Regions from separate parts of the Homo sapiens genome. Here all the other regions are reported to be linked to region 1. The links are microRNA targets in miRTarBase. Many come from high-throughput screens and were not tested one by one. Region 1 holds a microRNA gene; each other region holds the end of a gene's coding sequence.

Region 1 (4,150 bases):
CAGGCACCTTCTTCACAAGGCAGCAGGAGGGAGGGAGAGAGAAGCAAAGTGGGAAGAGCTCCTTATAAAACCATCAGATCTATGAGAACTCACTCATTGTCATAAGAACAGCATGGGGGAACCTCCCCCATGATCCAATCACCTCCCACCAGGTCTCTCCCTCAACACCCGGGAATTACAATTCAAGATAAGAGGCCGGGCACTCACCTGTAATCCTAGCACTTTGGGAGGCCGAGGCGGGCAGATGGCCTGAGCTCAGGAGTTTGAGACCAGCCTGGGCAACATGGTGAAACCCCATCTCTACTAAAATACAAACAACAACAACAAAAATTAGCGGGCGTGGCAGCGTGTGCCTGTAGTCCCAGGTACTCAGGAGGCTGAGGCAGGAGAAGTGCTTGAACCCTGGAAGCAGAGGTTGCAGTGAGCTGAGATCGTGCCACTGCACTCCAGCATGGCGACAGAGCGAGACTCCATCTCAAAAAACAAAAACAAAAACAATTCAAGATGAAATTTGAGTGGGGACACAAAGCCTAAACATATCACTGTTTTACAGCGTAAACAGTCACCTAAGTTAACTGTGTTAGATATGGTTTCTTGCATACATTTTCACTACCTTCTCTATATACTCCATTTTTACTCTACAGAATTATAGAAACTGGAAGGCTCAAAACTATATTTCCCACTTTTCACCATCCATAAAAGTCACAATTGTAAATCTAAGTGGGACAATAACAGTTTCACAAGAAAACAGAAGAATACTCACGATTTTGGAATCCACAAAGATTTCTTAAACTGGAGACACACAAAATAAATAAGCCATAAAGGAAAACATCTGATAAACTAAACTAATTCAAAATTATGAATGTCTTCTTCAAAATACACTATTAAAAGAGTGAATAAAATAAGCCACAGAGTGGGCTGGGCACAGTGGCTCACGCCTGTAATCCCAGCACTTTGGGAGGCCGAAGCAGGCAGATCACAAGGTCAGGAGATTGAGACCATCCTGGCTCACATGGTGAAACCCCGTCTCTACTAAAAATACAAAAAATTAGCTGGGCATGGTGGCGGGCACCTGTAGTCCCAGCTACTTGGGAGGCTGAGGCAGGAGAATGGCGTGAACCCGGGAGGAGGAGCTTGCAGTGAGCCGAGATCACGCCACTGCACTCCAGCCTGGGTGACAGAGCAAGACTCCATCTCAAAAAAAAAAAACAAAAAACAAAAAGCCACATAGTGGCAAAAGATATTATCAATACATATACCCGACAAAGGACTCATATCCAGAATAAAGGACTATAAAAACAAGAAAAGGCAGACAAGCCCATAGAAAATCACACAAAACACATGAATAGGCATTTCACAGAAGAGGGTACCCAAATGGCCAATAAACAATTAAAAAGGTGTTTATTTGATATCAGAAAAATGAAAACAACAATGAGATTCAATACACTGCATTAGTCTTTGAAGAGAATGGCTAAAATTTAAAAGATGGAAAAGATCAAGTTTTGATGAAGATGTGAAAAACTGTTGGGCAGTACTACTCAAGCTGAACCCCATGCATCAGAGAAATTACACTTTTATATATCCAACTGAAATATGTGTGTGTGTGTGTGTTCACCAATGTTCACAGTGGCACTAGTTGCAGTAATCTCAAATTGGAAACAACCCAAATGTCCATCTTTGGTAGAACGTATAAATTGTGTTATATTCATACAATGGAATACTACACAGCAATGAAAATGAAGATACTATTATTACTCTCAACATGAATGAATCTCACAAATAGTTGAGTAGGAAAAGCCAGTAATAAAATAATACACACTGTATCATTCCATTTTGTCTAATGTTTAAAAATAGGCCAAATTGGTCTAGGGTATTAGAAGCCAAGATTACAGTCAATTTGAGGGAGGATAATGCCTAGAAAAGATAATGAAGGGAGCTTCTGGTATGGTAGTAGTTTCTGCCTCCCAATCTGGGTGCTAGCAATATGTAGGTGTGTTTACTTTATGAAAATTCATCAAGCTCTCTGATTATAATTTGTGCATTTTTCTGTCTGTATGCTATACTTCAATAAAGATAGATTTATACTGAGTTAGGAACAAAGCTCAATAACTATAATTCTAGGCTGAGCTGCTAATAGGATTTGTTAAACAATTTAAACTGTGCCAGTCAGATATAATGATGCGAAATTAGAAAGGTAAAAGGAAGAGAGAGGCTATTTCCCCTGCCTATTAGTTTTCCTTCCTTCCTTCCTTCCTCCCTTTTCTTTCTCTTCTTTCTCCTTCCTTCTTTCTCTTTCTCCTTCCTTCCTTCCTTCCTTTTCTTTCTCTTCTCCTTCCTTCCTTCCTTCCTCTTCTTTCCCTTCCTTCCTTTCTCTCTCTCTCTTTTTACCTTCCTCCTTCCCTCCCTCCTTCTCTCTCTCTATTTATTTATTTTTTGAGAAAGATTCTTGTTCTGTCCAGGCTGGAGTACAGTGGCACAATCACAACTCACTGCAGCCTAGACCTCCTGGGCTCAAGGATCCTCCCACCTCAGTGTCCCAAATGTTTGGGACTTCAGGCATGCACCAACATGCCTGGCTGCCTATTAGTTTTCACTGGTAGTTGTTGATGTACGTGCAACATTAAATGTGGTTTTTAATGACCAGACTTTCTGTGCCTCTGCATTGCCACTAACTTCATCTGTGAGAAATGACTGTGATGCCAGCAGTGGACTTTATAGCTTCCTGACCTCTAGATTGTAGCTGTGTGGACTGAACTGCGAGCCCAACAGCATCCCTCTTAATGCTCCTACCATTAGAAGGGCTGGAAGAAGGCATCTCCCTCAGCCTTCTTCCAGCTCTTCTAATGGTAAGAGCATATAATTTTTAAGCATATAATTCTTAGCATTCAGTACCTAGAGAAGTGTCTGCACTGAACCCCAACTGATATATCAGTTAATAACACAACTGATAGGTTATCTAGTAGGTTTATGGTTGGTTGTAAGAATCTTTGGGAAAGAAAATTACCATTGGCAATCCTACCACCTAGGATCATCATTATCATGGGAAAGTTCTGCTTTAGAGGCAACCTAAATCTATTTTGAGGTCCTGAAAATGCATTTACTTCACAGGATATGCTGGTTTCTGCTGCCATTCAAAAATTATTCTTAAGGCATTCTTTGTTCTCTTTTCACTAGCTAAATAATGCCGTGCTTTTAACTTTTCTTTATGTGTTCAGCAGCTTTTCCCAGTTGTGGATATTTGAAAAAAGTATTCATATAAATACTGCCTGTTCTGGTAGGATTAGCTGTCCCTTTCTTTTGGTTATATTCCCAAGTTCATTCTTGCTTATCTAACCAAAGCCCTACATTGCTGACTCAAGTTTAGTTTATGGTCCAAGCCCAGTATCATGTTACTATTAGCCAAGATTTCCCATGGGTTGAGGCAGACTTGTAGAAGATTGAAAAATAAAACTTACTGGCCATAAGTAAGACTTTTTATCTGGCCTTCCAGTACAGAACATTCTCTAATATAGCAGCTTATAAACAATGAGAATCAGAAGCCTAAAAAAATTAGTTAATAGCCAAACAGTGACTGAATCATGGAATTGTACAGTTAGAATGGACCTTAGAAGCAGTCTATATAAGCCAGGTATAGTGGCTCATGCCTGTAATCTCAGCACTTTGGGAGGCCAAGGCAGGAGGATCTCTTGAGCCCTGGAGTTTGAGACCAGCCTGGCCAAAATGGTGAGACCCCATCTCTACTAATTTTTTTAAAAAGTCTATATACATACCAGAACACAGAGCTCAGATATGTATGCAGGATTCCAGTCCGTGCTGAATACTCTTCCAGTATGAGTACTCTTCCTACTCCTCAAGGTGTGTGGCCCTCAAAGCAGCAGCATCAGCACTTACCTGGGAGCTTGTTAGAAAGCCAGAATCTCAGGCTCCAACACCCACTGAAGCAGAATTTGCATGTAACACCCCCACCCCTTCTTGATTTGTATGCATGTTGAAATTTGTGGAGTTAGAGACAAAAGCACCACAGGTGCATGTCTTACTATTTAAAGTCTTGCCTAATTATATAACATAGAAACCTGATCCCTTCTGGACAAGGCCTGTATTATTACAGGTCCTGGTCTAATAGAGTATTTGAATAGCTGGGTTAAAGAAA
Region 2 (4,000 bases), not on the chromosome of region 1:
GTTCTATATGTAGATGTTCCTACACAGGAGTCAGTATCCCCAAGGCTAACTGCCTCTAGGTCAGCAATGTCCAATAGAACGTTCTTTAATGGTGGAAGTGGAAATGAAAGTTCTACTATCTGTACTGTCCAATATAGTAACCATATACCTACTGAGCACTTGAAATGTGGCCAATGTGAATAAATTGAATAATTCTAATAAATTTAAATTGCTACATGTGCCTTGGAGCTACTGTTTCTAACAGTGCAACTCTAGGTGTACTAGCTAGATGTGTTTTCATAACCTGCAATATTGAGAATCAGATACAGGGATGTGATGACCCCAGGTGACCACCCTTATAGCCTTGTGTTAAGGAGACTACCACTATCCTCTTTGCTCCCTAATCTACATATCTCTTTCGTAAAATTAAAGTGCCAAATAAGATTAAGAATGTTAAACATCCCAGGACTTAAGGGACAGGAAAAAGAGGAATTTTTTTCTTATTTTAAAACAAATGACAAGAAAACAGGGGCTGGCCGCGGTGGCTCACTCCTGTAATTCCAGCACTTTGGGAGGCCGAGGCAGGCAGATCACTTGAGGTCAGTTCAAGGCTATCCTGGCCAACATGGTGAAACCCCATCTCTACTAAAAATACAAAAATTAGCCAGGCGTGGTGGCACACACCCATAATCCCAGCTACTCGGGAGGCTGAGGCAGGAGAATCACTTGAGCCCGGGAGGTGGAGGGTGCAGTGAGCAGAGATTGCCCCACAGCACTCCAGCCTGGGCGACAGAGTGAGACTTGGTCTAAAAAAAAAAAAAACCAGAAAGAAAAAGAAAACAGTACAAAAGCTTAAAATAAAAATGTTCTAAAGTAGACTCTAATACTCATAGAAATTTAATATATAATAAAGGTAACATCACAAATCAGCAGAGAGAAACATAACTGCCCAAATAGTGTTGGCAAAATTAACTGCTTGGGGAAAAAGAGTTGTTCTCAGCACCAGGAAGAGCTTCCAAAGCATTTTAAAAACAGACATCACACATACACACACAAAATACCTCTGGGCATCAAAAATCGCCACAAAAGGTGCCTATAATCCCAGCTACTTGGGAGGCTTTGGCAGGGAGAACTGTTTGAACCTAGGAGGCAGAGGTTGCAGTAAGACCACACCACTGCACTCCAGCCTGGACCACAGAGCAAGACTCTGTCTCAAAAAAAAAAAATCACCACAAACAAGGCTGGGGGTAAAATTATTTGCAACAAATGAGAAACAAGATATTAATATTCTGAATATGTTTTTAAAAACTCTGGCCAGGCACAATGGCTCATGCCTATAATACCAGCACTTTGGGAGGTTGAGGTAGGAGGATTGTTTGAGCCCAACTGTTTAAGAGACCAGCCCTGGCAACATAGCAAGACCAGTCTCTACAAAAAAAAATTTAAATTAACCAGGCATGGTGGTGTGCACCTGCAGTCCCAGCTACTCAAGAGGCTGAGGTGGGAGGATCTCTTGAGCCCAGAAGTTAAGGCTGTAGTGAGCCATGATCACACCACTGCACTCTAGCCTAGGTGACAAAGCAAGAACTTGTCCAATTTAAAAAAAAAAATTAACTCATAAATTAGTAAGAAAAAAAATTTTTAAATAGTCTAAGGATGTAAAAAGATGAGAAACATAAAATACACTAACTTCACTAATATCAAAGTATGGTAAAACAATGACATATCACATTTCACCTATAAAATGGTAAAAATAAAAGATATAATTACACCAGTACAGGTAAGGGTACTGACACTTTCATGTATTGCTTGAAAGAAGGAGCAAACCAGCAATACATATCAGTATTCTCTAAAAGCAGTATCCTTTGATCCAGTAATTCCACTGTCGGATGTCAATCTCCTAAGGAAATGGCCAGGGATGTGAACAAAGATTGACAAGAATCTTCATCAACAGCATTTATCTAATTTTTAAAAAAATTAGAAATGACAGTCCAGGCCAGGCTTAGTGGTTCACGCCTGTAATCCCAACACTTTGGGAGGCCAAGGCGGGTGGATCATGAGGTCAGGAGTTCGCAACCAGCCTGGCCAATATGATGAAACCCCCGCACTACTAAAAATACAAAAATTGGCTGGGCGCGGTGGCGGGTGCCTGTAATCCCACCCAGCTGCTCGGGAGGCTGAGCCAGAACCACTTGAACCCGGGAGGTGGAGGTTGCAGTGAGCCGAGATGGAGCCACTGCACTCCAGCCTGGATGACAGAGCAAGGCTCCATCTCAAAAAAAAAAAGACAGTCTAACCAGAGGATTAGTAAAATATATTATGGCTCATTTTTACAATGTAATGTTACGAATTCATTAAATGTTTTTAAGGCTATTTAATGACACAGAAAAACAATACTAAGTGAAACGTAACAATAAGCTACACTGAAAGCTTCTCCCAGTGACAGGATGCTTTTTTTTACCACACTATTCTATTTCCTCCATATTTTCCAGAACAAATGCATACCACGTATCTTTTATAATGAGAATAAACCAACAAAACTGTACTTTCTCCTTTTTTTTTTTCCTTGAGAAGGAGTTTCGCTCTTCTTACCCAGGATGGAGTAGCAATGGCATGATCTCGGCTCACTGCAACCTCCGTCTCCCAGGTTCAAGCAATTCTCCTGCCTCAGCCTCCCAAGCAGCTGGGATTACAGGCACCCACCACCACACCTGGCTAATTTTTGTATTTTTAGTAGAGACGGGGTTTCACCATGTTGGCCAGGCTAGTCTCAAACTCCTGACCTCAGGTGATCCGCCTGCCTCAGCCTTCCCAAAGTGCTGGGATTACAGGCGTTGAGTCACCATGCCTGGCCACTTTCTCCTTCATTTTAACTGGCTCTTAGGTCGAGATTAGAGATACTCATGCTTGACCTGGGATAATTTTAAAAAAACCCAGTCGTATGCTATCCATGTATTTTGGGAAACATTTAGGACCTGTGGAAGATCGGGCCTCAACATTAAATCAGCAATTCTCTTTACTGGAATCAGATTAGCACATCAAACTGAGCAGTGTCATGCACCTATAATCCCAGCTACTCAGGAGTCTGAGGTGAGAAGGTCACTTGAGTCCAGGAGTTCAAGACCAGCCAGGGCAACAGAGCAAGACCCAGTCTCAATCATAAAAATTTTTTAATTTTTAAAAAGATTTAACAAGTTAACATAAAATTAAAGTGTGTCTCAAAACCAGACAGCCATCTTGTCTGCCATCACTGAGCAAATTACAGATGGACTCAATACAAATTTGCCCACGGGGCTTGCTTGCAATACTATTTCACAAAGCTGACTGTATTCTTCATCTTCATAAATGGCCAGTCTGATGCATAGCATGTTTAGCTACAAATGCCTCTGCTGACTCTCCCTGCAACATTTTCATCGCTCGCCAGTAGATCTGTCCACAGTTCTCAGGTCTACCAAGGGGGTGGTTCAATTCTTCTTTCATATAATCCATCCAAAGATCTTTTAAAAAAAAAACATACAATTAGATAACTGACAGAGTGTTATTAGGTAACCTTATTAAATATCAATTCAACTCAAGATTTCTAAGAAACTTAACTTCTCATTGTTACTTCCCTAGGACGCTTTGTTTAACAATACCTCTCTTAGCTTCTTTAAAGTATAGTGGCAGGTTTTGGTTTGTTTTTGTGTGTTTTTTTCTTTTTTGAGACAGGGTCTCACTGTGTTGCCCCGGCTAGAGTGTAGTAGCGGGAACATGGCTTACTACAGTCTCAACCTCCTGAGTTCAAGTGACCCTCCTGCCTCAGCCTCCAGGGCAGCTGGGAACACAGGCACACCACCATATTAGGCTAATTTTTTTATTTTTTGTAGAAACAGGGTTTCACTATATTGCCCAGGCTAGTCTTGAACTCCTGGGCTCAAGCAATCCTTCTACCTTGGCCTTCCAAAGTGCTGGGATTACAGGCGTGAGCCACTGTGCCTCATCAGTTTTGTTTTTTTGTTTTTTGTTTTTTTTCCCAGTAGAA
Region 3 (4,000 bases), not on the chromosome of region 1:
TGCTCCACACCAAGAATGTATTTTGCCCATTATCTGTCATCTGAGGGATGCCCTCACCTTTGATCTTGACATCAGATTCCAACAGGCAAAGATACATTTTGGTAACAGCTATGTACATATACAAAATATGTATATATTTTGGTAACAGCTACTCCGTTAATACATGTCTTCTAGCATTCCATTCATTTGGATTTATGAGTTCATCAATCCACCTTGTGTCATTAATCTACTTTGTTTAAATTACCCTCCTTAGTACCCATTTTTTTAGCAATGTTCTACTCCAAAACTACTGGTTTGAAATATAGTAGCACATCCTTTCAAAAAGATTTGTTTTTTAGATTCAAAGGGATAGAACAAGATGAAATTTATTTTTTACTCAGAATTTTTCTGAAAAACCACAGGGGTGTTTTACAATGCTTTTTAAGATCGAGATTAAGAAAGGTACTAAGCCAAAGATCATTTATATAATCATTTATATAATTAAATCCAGATTAGTTCAAACAATCGGCATATATTAAATACTCAAAGGGCAGATGGAGCAATCCTTATCTGAAATGCCTGGAACCAGAAGTGTTTTTAGCATTTTCCAGACTTTAGAATACTTGCATTATACTTATCAGTTCAGCATCCCTAATCCAAAAATCAGAAATGCCCTAATGAGCATTCAAATTATGGAGCATTTCTGATTTTAGATTTTTTGATTAGGGATGCTCAACTTGTACTCTATGCTTAGGATTTGCTTCTCTCAACTTTATGAAAAACAAAATGTAGGCCAGGTGTGGTGTAGGCTCACAACTATGATCCCAGCACTTTGGAATGTAGGCTTACACATGTAATCCCAGCACTTTGAGAGGTTGACGCAAGAGGATTGCCTGAAGTCGGCGTTTGAGACCGGACTGGGCAACATAGCAAGGCCCTATCTCTACAAAAACTAAAAAAACTTAGCTGGGCGTGGTATCTGTAGTCCTAGCTACTTGGGAAGCTGAGGTGGGAGGATCACTTGAGCCCTGAAGTTTGAGGTTGCAGTGAGCTGTGATTGCACCACTGCACTCCAGCCTGGGTGACAGAGCAAGACCCTGTCTCTTAAAAGTAGTAATAATTACACTTTATAATAGCCTCCAGCACTTTGTCAGATGTACAATTAAGCAATCTTTCATGCTTTGTTGTTAAAAAAAAAAAAAGACATTTATTCAGTATCATGATCAGATTATTAAAACATTTAGCAATCAACAGCATGGGTACAAAACAAAACAATCTACACTGAAACCCTGTGTTGGAATGCTTTACTTTCCACAGAACAGAAACTATTATACAATTAGTCACAAATACAGTCATCAAGTTCTGTGATCGTGGTGGCTTTGGTGGCAGCCATGGTGGTGGTGATGGATATGGTGGCAGTGGGGATTGCTATAATAGATTTGGTAATGATTGAAGCAATTTTGGAGGTGGTAAAAGCTACAATGATTTTGGCAATGACAACAATCAGTCTTCAAATTTTGGACCCATGAAGGGAGGAAACTTTGGAGGCAGAAGCTCTGGGCCCTATGGTGGTAGAGGCCAATACTTTGCCAAACCACGATACCAAGGTGGCTAAGGCAGTTCCAGTAGCAGTAGTGGTTAAGGCAGTTCCAGTAGCAGTAGTAGCTGTGGCACTGACAGAAGATTTTAATTACTGCCAGGAAACAAAAGCTTAGCGGGAGAGGAAAGCCAGAGAAGTGACAGGGAAGTGACAGGTTAAAACAGATTTGTGAACTTGGCCAAACACAGTGGTGGCAGGGCCTAGCTGGTTCATGCTTTTTTTTCAAGTGAGTTTCCCTTCACACAGTTTCCATTTGAGTCCCTAAGCTCTCAGGGCTACCACTATACTTGATTCATTTTGCATTTCCACTGTGTATCTCCCTCCCAGTTTCTCCTCCTCTTGAAAACATCACTTTTGTGACCTCCGTAAGTTTTCTTCAGCCTTACATTTTTTCAATTTCTTCCAAACTGAGGTGATAACTCTTACAAATTCTTTTTCCTTTCATAAGTAACCATTCCTCATGCATGTATTAGACCTTTAACTGTTAAGAATCTAACATAGTATTTAAAAAGTTAATTTTGAGGTAGCACTAAATTCAAATTACTTTACAATTTGCCATAAATACTGCGTTTTGCTTGACATTAACAGCAGCAATTCCACATTTCAAGAAATTAAGCAGTATTAGTAATACTGCAGGTATCAAAATTTTTTTTTTAAATCTTCAATTACATGTGGGCAGATGAAAACAACTACTAATAGAAATTTAAGGGAAAGATATCCAATTAAGGGAAATGTGTCCTAAAGGAAAAAGTGAATAAAAATTGAGAAAACAATTAAAGAAATGGAAAGAAAAGACCACTTTACGGATTATAAAAGTTATATTTATTCACGATGCTACATTTATTGCATTCCCTTAGAAAAATGGAGAACTGTTTATGTACCCAATCTGCACATATAAAATTTTATACAAATTATGTGTAGCACATAAAGGCCTCTGGTACAGCTAAAATCCTGACACTATAATTTGGGTATTCCTGCTTTAGGGTCTCCAGTTTATCAGGTCTGTCCATAGAAAACAGAAACTGGAATTATAGTCAGTCTTGCTAACACTTAGAAACTACTTTAAAATACAATAAAATTTTCATTTACCCTAAAAGTCCAAATGGGAGGGGATATATTTTGTTACCAATTTCAATGTAACAGTATGACAAATTCACACCTCATTTTGGCTGGGCTTTCAAAATTAAAAAAAAAAAATCACCTTAGTTCTGACATTATCTAAGTTGTGGCTGCTTCAGAAGGTCATATGACAAAATATTTACCAAATAATTAAAAATAATAATAATAATATTCCTTTTACAAAATGGTACAGTAATACCTTAAGGAACCGGAAAATACTAAATGTCTTTGGCTATACAACTAAAAGGCCATTCTTTCAAAAGAATAGGGCATATTCATTTCAGAATCAACTAAAAAAAACAGAAAGCATAACAGAAATATGCATAGAATTTAAGTATACTTTGTCTTGCCTTCTTTTCCCATTCTACCCACATAAGCAAGGAGAATGCAATTTATATAATCTTTCCAGATGAGACTCAATAGCACTACAAAGAAAATACCCAAATTTCTGCAAAGGCAAAGTGAATTAAAATAATTACACAACTAGGTGAAGACTGAAAGGGACAAATGTTATTTGCAATTTTCTTTTTAACTTGTTTTTAAGCCTTACAAGTGTAGAAATTATAGCTAATAAACAAAAAGTCACAATCTTCACAAATGGAACTACAATAGAAAAATAAATCAAATGAAACACTTAGTAATAAATGAAGCCTATTTTATTACTTCAAGTGTTAATGATAAAAAAATTTCAGCACAGCTGTTGCATTTAAAAAAGTGAAACTACATACTATGTTTCTAGCTCAGTAAACAGATGAACCTGATGTCTTTAAATGACATAACAATTGAGCATTGTACAGTACATCTTATGAAGACCCGTAAATTAAAGAACTACTGGTTTAAAGTTAGTGATTATGAAACAAAAACATATTCATAGTTTCAGCTTCTTTTTTCTTCCTCGACCATCAGGTGCGCCATCCATTTTACGTTTCTGTGTCTACAAACAGACAGAAGGATTACTTTTCACAAGACTAATATAAACATGAAATATAGTTGCAGACACATTATAACACTTTAGTAATAACAACTACTACAAAGTAATAGGTATGAGACTTTTCCCCCAGGCTATATAAATCTTTCAAAGCAAACTATAAAGCCTCCAAATAATCTTACCTACTTATTTTACTTACAGAATAAAAAATGTTAATGTTAATAATGACGTTATAAAACTAATGCACAATTAACAGTAGTAGATCAATATCAAATAAATGCAAGCTTCCCAAAATAGTAAGAAACACTTGAGTTTTTAAAAGGCAGTTACATAAGTACCAAATATTATCCAGAGATACTCATTTATTCATGACT

The links. Region 1 holds the annotated microRNA hsa-miR-6512-3p (UUCCAGCCCUUCUAAUGGUAGG, at 2,786-2,807, opposite strand). A microRNA usually pairs through its seed, bases 2 to 8, with sites in the 3' UTR of a target mRNA and lowers its output. Matches are read on the target gene's strand: a 7mer-m8 pairs with bases 2 to 8, a 7mer-A1 pairs with bases 2 to 7 and ends in A, and an 8mer does both.
Region 2: miRTarBase lists UTP6 as a target of hsa-miR-6512-3p. Seed matches in the 3' UTR shown: 7mer-m8 at 2,222-2,228 and 7mer-m8 at 1,161-1,167.
Region 3: the mRNA of SMARCA5 is a reported target of hsa-miR-6512-3p. Seed matches in the 3' UTR shown: 7mer-m8 at 1,051-1,057.

What each region holds. Positions count from the first base shown.
Region 1 is chr2:177,311,026-177,315,175 of GRCh38, forward strand. MIR6512 (microRNA 6512) reads right to left here and starts at 2,857; the gene lies at 2,781-2,857. It overlaps LOC100130691 (Putative uncharacterized protein FLJ44553), which reads right to left. Exons shown (of 9, transcript NR_026966.1): 7 at 208-303; 8 at 1-10.
Region 2 is chr17:31,860,041-31,864,040 of GRCh38, forward strand. UTP6 (UTP6 small subunit processome component) reads right to left here. Exons shown (of 19, transcript NM_018428.3): 19 at 864-3,476. The coding sequence ends at 3,319. Among named protein-coding and RNA genes, the nearest start is that of COPRS, 2.8 kb to the left of the region's middle.
Region 3 is chr4:143,552,751-143,556,750 of GRCh38, reverse strand. SMARCA5 (SNF2 related chromatin remodeling ATPase 5) reads right to left here. Exons shown (of 24, transcript NM_003601.4): 24 at 1-3,632. The coding sequence ends at 3,567. Among named protein-coding and RNA genes, the nearest start is that of SMARCA5-AS1, 40 kb to the right of the region's middle.